Homo sapiens: one gene and its partner. The protein of the gene in region 1 interacts with the protein of each later gene in a biochemical or structural test. Each region holds a gene or a part of one and is shown in the gene's direction. Other genes may lie near its edges.

Region 1 (7,171 bases):
AATCAATCAATATCATGAGGAAAAAGTCTTCTTTAAAATTTGAAAATTAATTTTTATTTCAGTAGCTTTTGAGGTACCAGTATTTTTTTGTTATAGGGATGAATTATGTAGTGGTGAATTCTGAGATCTTAGTAAACCAGTTATTCCAGTAGTGTACATTGTAAGTAATGTATAGTGTTTTATAGTGTACATTGTAACTAATGTATAGTGTTTTATAGTGTACATTGTAACTAATGTATAGTGTTTTATAGTGTACATTGTAACTAATGTATAGTGTTTTATAGTGTACATTGTAACTAATGTATAGTGTTTTATAGTGTACGTTGTAACTAATGTATAGTGTTTTATAGTGTACATTGTAACTAATGTATAGTGTTTTATCCCTAGCACCACTGCCATCCTCCCGCCTTGAGTCTCTAAAGTTCCATTATATCACTCTGTATGCCTGTGCATTCCCATCATTTAGCTCCCACTTACGAGTGAGAACATAGTTTGTGGTTTTCCACTCCTGTGTTACTTAGAATAATGGCCTTCATCTCCATCCAAGTTGCTGCAAAAGACATTCATTCTTTCCTTTTACTGGCTGAGTAGTATTCCATAGTTTATAGATACATTTTCTTTATCTGCTCATTAGTCAATGGCCACTTAGGCTGGTTCCACATCTTTGCAATTGTGAATTGTGCTGCTATAAACATACGTGTGCAAGTATCTTTTTCATATAATGACTTATTTTCCTTTAGGTAGATGCCCAGACTGCTGGATTGAATGCAGATCTACTTCGAAAAAGTCTCAAGTGCCTAACTATCCCCTGTTCCCTGTGTTCTGATTTCTTTTTTTTTTTTTTTTTTTTTTTTGAGATGGAGTCTTGCTCTGTTGGCCAAGCTGGAGTGCAGTGGTGCAATCTCGGCTCACTGTAACCTCCACCTCCCGGGTTCAAGTCATTCTTCTGCCTCAGCCTCCTGAGTAGCTGGGACTACAGGCATGTGCCACCACCACACCCGGCTAATTTTTGTATTTTTAGTAGAGATGGGGTTTTGCCTTTTTGGCCAGGCTTATCTTGAACTCGTAACCTCAGATGATCCACCTGCCTTGGCCTCCCAAAGTTCTGGGATTATAGACATGAGCCACTGCGCCCAGCCTGTGTTCTGATTTCTTTACCTGTTATATAAGCTTACCATTCCTTCCAGTAGCCTTATAACATAGAGGGACAGGGGCTTATTTCCAGGTAGAGTAGGGAATTTGGGGTCCACGGAGTTCAGGTTCTTGCCAGAAGTGACGTTGCTGCTTAGTGTTGAAACTGAGCCCACCAGGACCAGGTGCAGGTCATTTCCTATTACCTGTCCCTGCCCTCCTGCCCCGCCCAAAAGAAACTTTATGATGGTGAGAAAGTGATACATATTCAGTGGGAACTGTGCTCCCATACCCCTACAACCATTCTGTTTTTCACTGTCAAAACAGTACTCAATAAATTACATGAGATTCGGCTGGGCGTGGTGGCTCACGCCTGTAATCCCAGCACTTTGGGAGGCTGAGGCGGGAAGATCACTTTAGGTCAGGAGATCGAGACCATCCTGGCTAATACGGTGAAACCCCATCTCTACTAAAAATACAAAAAAAAAAAAAAATTATCTGGTGCATAGTGACGCACGCCTGTAATCCTAGCTACTCGGGAGGCTGAGGCGGGAGAATTCTTGAACCTGGGAGATGGAACTTGCAGTGAGCTGAGATCACAGCACTGCACTCCAGCCTGGTCAACACAGTGAGACTCTGTCTCAAAAAAAAAAAAATTACATGGGATTCAACATTTTCTTATATAATAATGAAAATAGGCTTTGTGCTAGATGATTTTGCCCAGCCGTAGGCTAATAGAAGTGTTCTGAGCACATTTAAGGTAGGCTAGGCTAAGTGATGATGTTCAGTAGATTAGGTGCATTAAATGCTTTTTCTTTTCTTTTTTTTTTTTTGAGATGGAGTCTCGCTCTGTCACCCAGGCTGGAGTGCAGTGGCTCGATCTGGGCTTACTGATCACCTCCCGGGTTCACGCCATTCTGCCTCAGCCTCCCGAGTAGCTGGGACTACAGGCACCCGCCACCACGCCCGGCTAATTTTTTGTATTTTTAGTAGAGATGGGGTTTCACCGTATTAGCCAGGATGGTCTCGATCTCCTGACCTCATGATCGGCCTGCCTCAGAATCCCAAAGTGCTGAGATTACAGGTGTGAGCCACCACGCCCGGCCAAATGCTTTTTCAACTTACGATATTTTCTTTTTTTTTTTTTTTTTGAGACAGAGTCTTGCCCTGTTGGCCAGGCTGGTCTCGGCTCCCTGCAACCTCCGTCTCCTGGGCTCAAGCAATTCTCCTGCCTCAGCCTCTCAAGTTGCTGGGATTACAGGCATGTGCCACCATGCCCAGCTAATTTTTGTATTTTTAAGTAGAGACGGGGTTTCAACATGTTGGCCAAGCTGGTCTCGATCTCCTGACCTCTGGCAGTCCTCCCACCTCAGCCTCCCAAAGTGCTGGGATTACAGGCGCAAGCCACTGTGCCCGGTCAACTTATGATATTTTCAACTTACAGTGGGTTTGTCAGGACATAGTCCCATCCTAAATTGAGGAACATCTGTATACTAGACAGGGACTTCTCTGAGGTCAGGGACCCTGTTTTCATTCTGTATCCCCAGTTCCTGACAAAATCCTAGCATGTATAACATCGCCTACAACAAGTTTGTTCCAGGAAAGAGTGTTTCATAATAATGACACTTGCTACTAGGCTTTTTAGTGGCTGGCAGAGTGCTCTCACACCACTGTTAGTTAATACTCGTATTCACCCAGTCAAATGGATGTTCTCCCCATCCTAGAGGTGTGCACCCAACAATTAGAGCAATCACAAGAGCACACACTTCCTAATGAGAAAGTTCCAGAAGGATTATCCTGAATACCTTGAAAGGCTCAGATTGCAAACTTGGCTGGCAGGCATTTCCTTCACCTGCTGGGCTGTTGACCACTGAATCTCCTGATTTTAGGCTCCAAGATTATGGCCCATGCCCCCCAGGCCGCACCTCGTTCCTTACCAGGTTCTTCCTACCCCCTCCCCCAGGAGATTGCTGCGATGATTGACACTGAGTTTGCCAAGCAGACCTCCCTGGACGCAGTGGCCCAGGCCGTCGTGGACCGGGTGAAGCGCATCCACAGCGACACCTTCGCCAGTGGTGGGGAGCGTGCCAGGTTCTGCCCCCGGCACGAGGACATGACCCTGCTAGTGAGGAACTTTGGCTACCCGCTGGGCGAAATGAGCCAGCCCACACCGAGCCCAGCCCCAGGTACGTGTGCTGTGCAGACAGGCAGTGCCTGGGGATGCCATCTGGGGGCCAGAGGTGGGTGCAGAGCCCCCGAGGCTGCTTGAAACGGAGATGGAGTCAGGAGGCCTGGCTCTGAGTGGCTCTAATTCAGGTTCTCTGATTTTTAGCCTCTCTGAGCTGAGTGTTGATTTTTGCTCTTTTGTCTGTAAAATGAGGTTAATACCACCTGCCCCGGCAACCTCCCAGAACCTGAGTGCCCCAGCAAGCAATTCACAGAGCCCTGAAGCCACATAATAGAGATGATGGCCACCACTGATTGAGTGCCTCCCTTGTGCCAGGCACACAGCCTGCCTTATTCCCTTCAGTCCTCATGGGCAACCCTAAAGACAGGTGGTACCCCTGTTTTCCAGAGAGGGAAACTGAGGCTGAAGAATGAAGGGACCTGGAAGAGATTAGGCATGTGGACAGATGGTCAGGCCCCAAGGCCTGTCTGTCCCTGGGCTGCACTGGAGCAGGGCAGGGAGAAGGACGTTTTGCTTTTTACCTATGTCATTCTTCAACCAAGTTCTCAGGAAAAGAGGTGGCTGCTCTTTCCCGTGCTCCCCCCAGTGCTGCTCAGCACTAAGACCTTCGGTTCCTGAGGGCTGCATTTCTTTTTCTTTGCTTTAAACAAGCAAATCTTAGATAAAGCTCAGGCATCCACAGACAGATTTGTTCTCCCATGGACACCAGGGTTATTGGAGTTTCTCTGGCCTGTTTTTATTGCAACCATATTTTTATTGGGTCAGCCTCAACTGGGAGCAAACTTATCCTCTGAATTAAAGCATCCATGGGAAGCCAGGCAGTAACCCTTTCCTTGAGGCAACTCGAGCACCAGCAGGATTTACTGCTATAAGGAGTTCTCAGCCCGGCCTGGAAGAGTCTCTGACAAGGGACACTCCTCCTGAGCTGTCCCAAGGGGCAGGGGGCCCCACTGGGCTTGGGGAGCCAGGCATGGCCGCCACCCACACTCAGCCCTCAGGCACCACCCCATCAGGCCATGGAGCAGCTATGCCCCTGCTACCCTGGGTTTCTCCTCAGCTGCTGCCTGAGGCCCCCACTCTCTTCCTCCCAAAGCTGCAGGAGGACGAGTGTACCCTGTGTCTGTGCCATACTCCAGCGCCCAGAGCACCAGCAAGACCAGCGTGACCCTCTCCCTTGTCATGCCCTCCCAGGGCCAGATGGTCAACGGGGCTCACAGTGCTTCCACCCTGGACGAAGCCACCCCCACCCTCACCAAGTAAGTCCCTTCCCCACTGAGCCACCCCCAGCCCTGTCACCCCCGTGTGTGTCCTGTGGCACCAGGACAGAAATGGCCATGGGGCCAAGGCTTGTGGATGAGATGCCCTGGGGTCTGGAATTCCCCAGCTCCGTGCCTGGTGAGGGAGGTCTCCCTAGAAACTGAGGCAGGTGCGATTTTTGGTCAGGTGGCTGATGGTCCCAGCCTACTTCTCGTATTTTCTTGTGGGCCCATCTGCTGGTTTCATTCAGTGGAAGGTTTCCTTTCATTCCTCACCTCGGTGTGATGTGGGGTGGCTTCCTGTGGTGTCCTTGCTTGAGGACATTGTCTGGCCTGTACTGGCTTGTCAGAGCCCATGCTTTCTGGCTAATGTGCTTGATTTTAGCTTTGAAGTGAGTTCTCTGGTTTTGGGGCAGGGGGCGAGGTAGAGGCAACAGCCTGAGGGGGATGCGGCCAGGCCCCCTCCAGCCGCAGACCTGCCTGACAGGTCTGGAGTACACCCCACCCCCTTCACTTCCTTAGAATGTGCACTCCCCACACCAGGGGACCCAGATCTGGTTTCCACATTCCAGCCCTGCATGGAATGATAGAGATGCCACACCCAGCCCACTCTGAGGATGGAGTGCGCAGGATGTGGCCAATTAGAAAGGCCCTGGAGGGGGGTGGGCGGCCTGCATGCCTCTGCCCCATCAGGGGGCCTTCCTTTCCCTCTGCCTCTGGGTTGTGGATGCTGCGACTGCTGCCACGGGGCTAGAAAGGCCTGCCAGGCCGAGCAAGCTCCTTGGGCATCCTGAGTGCAGTAGGGGTGGCCTCTCCAGCACCCCTGCCGGGCTGCCTGGAGGAGTCCTCCAGCTGTGTCCACAAAGCAGAGTGTGAGCGCTGTGGCCCTAGACAAGGCAGGACAACCCACTCTCCTCCCCTGCCTGTGTTCCTCACTCCTTTCAGCGTCTGAGCCATAGTTGGTCCCACCATGGGCTGGCCCTGTGCTGGTGCTGGGCAGCGCTAACAGGCAGTTCCAGCTGTGATAGAAGGTGGGTGCCCGTCCCCACCCAGCTGATGAGAAGAGATTGAAGGGGAGGGGGGCGAAGGAAGGTTTTCTAGAAGAAGACACCTTGCCCGCCCTGCTGAGTAGGTCCTGGGTTGGGACGGGTTTAGAGAGATGGTAATGGACAGTCGGTGGTTCAGCTTCACCCGAGGAACTTCCTGTGATGACGGGAGTGCTCGCGTGGGTGCTGTCCTGTCACGGCGTCTCTAGCCACTTGTGGCTATTAGACGCTTGAACTGAGTGTTCCATTTTCTTTCCATTTTTTTGAGACGGAGTTTCACTCTTGTTGCCCAGGCTGGAGTGCAATGGCAAAATCTTGGCCCACTGCAACCTCTGCCTCCCAGGTTCAACCAATTCTCCTGCCTCAACCTCCCGAGCAGCTGGGATTACAGGCACACGCCACCATGCCTGGGTAAATTTTTTTTGTATTTTTAGTAGAGATGGGGTTTCACCGTGTTGGCCAGGCTGATCTCGAACTCCTGACCTCAGGTGATCCACCCGTCTTGGCCTCCCAAAGTGCTGGGATTACAGGCATGAGCCACCGCGCCCAGCCCCATTTTCTTTACCTTTAGTTCATTTAAGTAGCCACATGCATCTGGTGCTTTAAAATTTGACTTTTTATCTGTTCCTAAGATCATCTGGCTGGGCCAGCTCCTATGGTCACCTCTGCCAGAAAGGCCTGTGGCCCAAGAGGCTGGTAGAGGCAGGGGCCATTCTGTCCCCACTCTGCCCCAGGCCCCTTGACCCGGCTGCTTCTGATTGACTCCCTCCCCTGTTGTCCTGCAGCCAAAGCCCGACCTTAACCCTGCAGTCCACCAACACGCACACGCAGAGCAGCAGCTCCAGCTCTGACGGAGGCCTCTTCCGCTCCCGGCCCGCCCACTCGCTCCCGCCTGGCGAGGACGGTCGTGTTGAGCCCTATGTGGACTTTGCTGAGTTTTACCGCCTCTGGAGCGTGGACCATGGCGAGCAGAGCGTGGTGACAGCACCGTAGGGCAGCCGGAGAATGCAGCCCAAGCAGGGCCTGGCATGGGGCAGGACAGGGTCCAGCCTTTTCCTAACATCTGCCTGTGCCACAACGGCCAGCAGGTGCCCCATCCTCTGCCCACAGCAGACTCTGTCCCATGGCTCTCCGGGCAGTAGAGTGTGTGAGTGCAGACTGGACCTGTGGTTCATACCTTGTCACCACCCGGGAAGCTGAAGGCCACTTCCTCCCAGATGGCCTCAGCCAGGACCATCGCCCTTTCTCAGAGCAGAGGGCCAGGTATAGAAACCGCAGTGGGCCTGCAAGCCGCCCGAGCCTCCCCAGCAGCCTCCTACAGAGCAGGAAGAGGCGCCCTGTGAACCCTGAGTGTTGCAGGCCCAGCAGACCCTGCTGTCCCAAGCCCACCCCTCCTCCCACCATCACCTCCCTCACCTCGGGACAGTAGCCCTCCACTTCTCCAGCCTCTCAGCCCTGTGCTCCTGCATCCAGAGTGGAACCCAGGCTGGTGTCCGCATCTGTCCCTGGGCCCCACCCCTGGACCTGCCTTGGTTGTGTCATCTGTTGTA
Region 2 (5,623 bases), on another chromosome or scaffold:
TGTCATCTTCTTAGGTATCCACGGAAGAAGTTCTGGGTTGGGAAACCCATTGCTCGAGTGGTTAAAAAAAAGACCGGAGAATTCTCAGATAAACTCCTCTCTCTGCAACGAGGCCTGAGGGAATTCCAGGGTAAGGGTTGGGGAGCGCACAAAGGGTGGGAGTCAGAGCAGGGCTACCTCGTAGAAAGAGCGCACCCAGCTCCTTTCCATCACCTTGTCGATCCTCACTCTTCTGAGGGCCTCTTGTCTTAGACATGGATCCCTATCAGGAAATTGATACTGCCCGAGCAAGAAATGGGCTCATAAATTTTCGGGACTTGAGTCATTGCTGTCCTTTTTTCTCCCCAGGGAAGCTGCTGAGAGACTTGGAATATAAGACAGGTGAGTGTCTAGAGGGTGTTTCCCAGATGTACATCAAATATAGAAAACTCCGCCTGCAGAGATTCTGACTGCTCACTTTTCCCCCAGGTAGCCCCTTTTGCAACAGGAAGAATTTCCCAGCTGCACAATAGAAGCCCCCCTCCCTCTTTGCACTTTCTAATCAGCCTACTCTTTAGTCTGCAGTAGAGGCCTCTGCTTGCTAGTCTGATCCTTCTCTGCCCTGTGTTTGCTTTTCTTTTTCCTATCCTCACAGGTCCTACCACCAGTCCTTTTCCTGTGGCCGAGCTTTCTCTCATCTTCCTGGCTGCATGGCTCCTATATTCAGAGCAAACAGCAGGGGCAACCTAAGACCAGAGGCCATATCCACCACAGGCCCCACTATTGTGCCCCCTCTCAGCCCTGCAGTTAGGTTGTACACTGCATACCAACCACCAAGGAGCGCCATCCACATAGACCAAGATGTGAATGGTGCCCCTTGGATTGTGAAGACTGGTGGTCTCCTCCTGGCTCACTTTCACACTTGCTTTCGTGAGAACCATTGAGGAGGTCGGCCTGTCTGGGAGCAAACGAGGCCCTGAGAGCTTCATCTAGTTCACAGGATAAAATCCCATAGCAGAACTGAGTTAGCAGTGGTTAAACCTTAGGTGGTTGTAGCTTCTTTATTAATGTCTGAGCTGTCTGTGAATACCGTCAAATTTTACCTATCAGGTTATTCTAATTATAGAGAATCCTATGAGGATGATGGTGAGGATTATCCCACTCTGTCAGTACCTGTTCAGGGTTTCTTGAACCATCTTACAGAGCAGGCTGGTAGTTTTGAAACTGAAATTGAACAGTTTACAGAGACCCTGAATGCTTGTGTTACAACAGATGATGCTTTGCAAGAACTTGTGGAACTCAGAGGCCACATCTGTCCCAAATTTCTTTTTTTTTTTTTTTTTTTTTTTTTGAGACGGAGTCTCGCTGTCGCCCAGGCTGGAGTGCAGTGGCGCAATCTCGGCTCACTGCAGGCTCCGCCTCCTGGGGTTCACGCCATTCTCCTGCCTCAGCCTCCCGAGTAGCTAGGACTACAGGCGCCCGCCACCTCGCCCGGCTAATTTTTTGTATTTTTAGTAGAGACGGGGTTTCACCGTGTTAGCCAGGATGGTCTCGATCTCCTGACCTCGTGATCCACCCGCCTCGGCCTCCCAAAGTGCTGGGATTACAGGCGTGAGCCACCGCGCCCGGCCTTTTTTTTTTTTTTTTTTTTGAGATGGAGTCTTGCTTTGTCTTCCAGGCTGGAGTGTAGTGGTGTGATCTCAGCTCACTGCGAGCCCCGCCTCCCAGGTTCACGCCATTCTCCTGCCTCAGCCTCCTAAGTAGCTGGGACTACAGGTGCCCACCACCATGCCCGGCTAATTTTTGTATTTTTAGTAGAGATGGGGTTTCACCATGTTAGCCAGGATGGTCTCGATCTCCTGACCTTGTGATCCACCCGCCTCGGCCTTCCAAAGTGCTGGGATTATAGGCGTGAGCCACCGTGCCCAGCCCCAAATTTCTCTTACATGGGAGCTCACCTGTGTAATTACCTGACATCATCTGACAGTTAGCACAGAGAGTAGCACCTTCCGCCAATTTCTACTTCAAAGATGTCGGACTGAATATGACATTAAAGATCAAGCTGCAAAAGGGGATGAAGTTACTCCAAAACAATTTCATGCATTTGTACCCTTTCTGGGAGAGCTTTATCATAACCTGGAGATCAGAGGAACAAATGGACAGGTTACAAGGGCAGATATTCTTCAGGTTGGTCTTCAGGAGTTGCCGAATGCCTGAATGCCCTCTTTTCTAATCCCGTGGATGACAGCTTAATTTGTGCAATAAAATTGCTGAAGTTGACAGGGTCAGTTTTGGAAGATTCTTGGAAGGAAAAGGAAGGACTGATATGGAAGAAATTATTCAGGAAATTGAAAATGTTGTTATAGATGCAAGCTGTGGCAGAGACATGAAACAGATGCTCTTGAAGCTTGTAGAACCCCAGTGCAGTAATTGGGGTAGAGTCCATGCAACTTCATCATACAGAAATACAACAGCCAAAAAAGATCCCAATTACTATGTGAATGAACCAACATTTTATAGTGGTCATTCACATAGTTATTGTGTTTCATAGTGTTCCTTTCACTGCAGCTGATCCGGATTACCAAGAAGCATATCAAGAGTTACTTGAAAAAGAGGACTTTTTTTCTGGATTATGAAGAAAATGGAACAGATTTTTCAGGGACTGGTGATCCACACTTGGATGATATTAATGATGAGTTGGACCCAGAGATCCAGAGATAGAGGAAGCTTATGAAAAGTTTTGTTTGGAATCAGAGCGTAAGCGAAAACAGTCAAGTTAAATTTCAGTATATCATGTTTATAAAGCAGTTTAGTTATGGTGATTTAGCAGAATACAAAGCCAGAAAATGTGTCACACTTATACCAAATTAAGGATGTTGAGTTATATTACTAATGTATGCAACTTTAATTTTGTTTAACGCTATCTGCCAAAATAAATTTTATTCCCTCTGACTTAAAAAACAAAACAAAACAGTGATGCTGTTTTTTTTTTTTTCCCTTGTCCCCACAGTGAGCGTCACCCTGGACCCACAGTCGGCCAGTGGGTACCTGCAGCTGTCAGAGGACTGGAAGTGCGTGACCTACACCAGCCTGTACAAGAGTGCCTACCTGCACCCCCAGCAGTTTGACTGTGAGCCTGGGGTGCTAGGCAGCAAGGGCTTCACCTGGGGCAAGGTCTACTGGGAAGTGGAAGTGGAGAGGGAGGGCTGGTCTGAGGATGAAGAAGAGGGGGATGAGGAGGAAGAGGGAGAAGAGGAGGAGGAGGAAGAGGAGGCCGGCTATGGGGATGGATATGACGACTGGGAAACGGACGAAGATGAGGAATCGTTGGGCGATGAAGAGGAAGAAGAGGAGGAGGAAGAGGAGGAAGTTCTGGAAAGCTGCATGGTGGGGGTGGCTAGAGACTCTGTGAAGAGGAAGGGAGACCTCTCCCTGCGGCCAGAGGATGGCGTGTGGGCGCTGCGCCTCTCCTCCTCCGGCATCTGGGCCAACACCAGCCCCGAGGCTGAGCTTTTCCCAGCACTGCGGCCCCGGAGAGTGGGCATCGCCCTGGATTATGAAGGGGGCACCGTGACTTTCACCAACGCAGAGTCACAGGAACTCATCTACACCTTCACTGCCACCTTCACCCGGCGCCTGGTCCCCTTCCTGTGGCTCAAGTGGCCAGGAACACGCCTCCTGCTAAGACCCTGAGCCCTGACATCTGCCCCCAGCCCCAACCCTCAGATGCTTCACTTCTTTGGAATTCCAGGACTCTCAATGGGGGGACGGGATGCCTGGCCTAAGCACCTGGAGCAGGGGACCCCATATCCACTGGTAGCCACCTCCCCATTGCTGTGGCCCCCTGAAATCTCACTCAGTGCTGTTGCTCCATCTACTGCCCTAATGGGGCTCTTTTCCCACCTCCTGCTGGTTTCCCGAGGGAACTTCTGACCCTGGAGTCCATGAGGGCTCCTTTCCTTTTTGACCACGACCTTGGCCCCAGCTCTGCACTCTCTGGAATAAGGGCCCGATGCAGCATTTTCTTGCCCAGTGTGGCAAGACCTCAGAAAAACCAGTCAATTACGCCTAAGATCATTTTGCTGTCCTTAAACCCCCCAGGTTCCTTCTTGCACAAATCCACTCTGCTGCCCACCTTCCCTGGCATTTTAAACAGACCTACCCCACCCCAACTCAGAGTTAAGCATACATGGCAATGCTGAAAATAAACAAAATCCACTGAGGCTTCCCAGGCCATTTAAAGCCTGGAGTACCAGCGCATATCATCTCATGGGGTCCAGAGTGGAGTCCAGGCTTCTCTGAAACCAGGGCTGAGCATATTTCCATAGCCAAGGAGGTGGGACTCCCTGGAGCTATCTGTGGTCTTAGGGAAGGATCCAGACATACACGGCTTTGGGGTACAAGCTGTGATCACTGATCAATAAATTATCTCTAGATTGGTCCTTGTGAGGGGAGTTTTAAGAATCCAGAACATCTTGCTCTTGATCAGCACATCCAAAAACACCAAGACAAACATCCAGTGGAGCAGAACCTCTCCTGCCTCGGGAGTTCTGACCGGGTTCCCCAGCAGGGTGTTAAGCCTCTGTCTCTGGCCCTACCAGCATCCAGGTTCCACTTTCCTAGGAGAGAGTGGAGATGGGAAGACAGGGAAAGGAAGGCAGCAGGAGGCCACAAGCCCACCAGGTCTTCATGTCAAGAGAGGGAGTAACATGTCTTCTCATTGCCCACGGACCCAACCTCTGTCCAGGTGCCCCTCATCATCACAGTTTAACACAAGCTCCCCTGCTCCAGCCAAATTGATCTCCCAGTCTTGTCCTTACCCATTCCAAGTGCTCTGCCAGCCCCTGTTCATCCAAGTTTTAAGTCCTCCACCCTGTTCTAAGAGACTGTTCCAACGGCTCTGGGCCTCAGTGGTCACTTGACCACCATTGTCTCAGAGCTGCCCACTTTGTGTGTGTCACATGCTGCCTGAGTCACATGTACATCTTATTTCTGCCTCTAGTTTTGTAAGCTCCTGGAGGGCGGATAACATCTTATACTACTCTTGTATTCTCATGGCACCTAGTGCAGTGCTGGGCACAGAGTAGGTGCTCAATAAAGACTTGTTGAATGAACAGCCTGGAGATCTGTATTTGTAGGTCTATATCTATATTATATCTCAAATGCCACCAGACCTCAGTCTGGCTACAGAGAAATTCCACTGATAGCAGTAGCCGAAGGTTTTCCTTCTGTGCCTTCTGTAACAGTGTAACTTTGCTTTCTGTTCTCTGCACACATGCTGTCATTTCTGGAAGTCCCTCAAAAAGAGCCTACTGCGGAACACAGACGAGTTGTTGCGTGGCTCCACCTTTTTATTCCTCCTGCAGTGGTGCCCTTGAGCTGAGGTCCAGCGTTTTGGAGCAAGTGATGACTCTCCCTGAGAAGGGAGACCTCCAGTATAGCACACCCAAAAATTCTTCCTTGGAAAATAAGCACTGCCTCAGAGGAAATAGAATGTGCAGAGATTCAGCCTTGCATCCTAACACAGTCAACTGTTTTTCTTGTCCTTTCTGATTTTTTTTTTTTTTTTTTTTTTTTTTTTTTTTTTTTTTTTTTTTTTTGAGATGGAGTCTCACTCTGTCTCCCAGTTTGGAGTGCAGTGGCG

What was found.
Region 2: the proteins of TAB1 (region 1) and TRIM26 form a complex in vitro, tested with the Homo sapiens proteins (one study listed by BioGRID).

What each region holds. Positions count from the first base shown.
Region 1 is NC_000022.11:39,423,609-39,430,779, forward strand, and holds part of TAB1 (TGF-beta-activated kinase 1 and MAP3K7-binding protein 1), read left to right. Parts: intron 1-3,094; coding exon 3,095-3,317; intron 3,318-4,412; coding exon 4,413-4,575; intron 4,576-6,406; coding exon 6,407-6,614; 3' UTR 6,615-7,171. UniProt on the Homo sapiens protein: Key adapter protein that plays an essential role in JNK and NF-kappa-B activation and proinflammatory cytokines production in response to stimulation with TLRs and cytokines.
Region 2 is NC_000006.12:30,183,925-30,189,547, reverse strand, and holds the end of TRIM26 (tripartite motif-containing protein 26), read left to right. Parts: intron 1-14; coding exon 15-130; intron 131-348; coding exon 349-381; intron 382-2,989; coding exon 2,990-3,672; 3' UTR 3,673-5,093; downstream 5,094-5,623.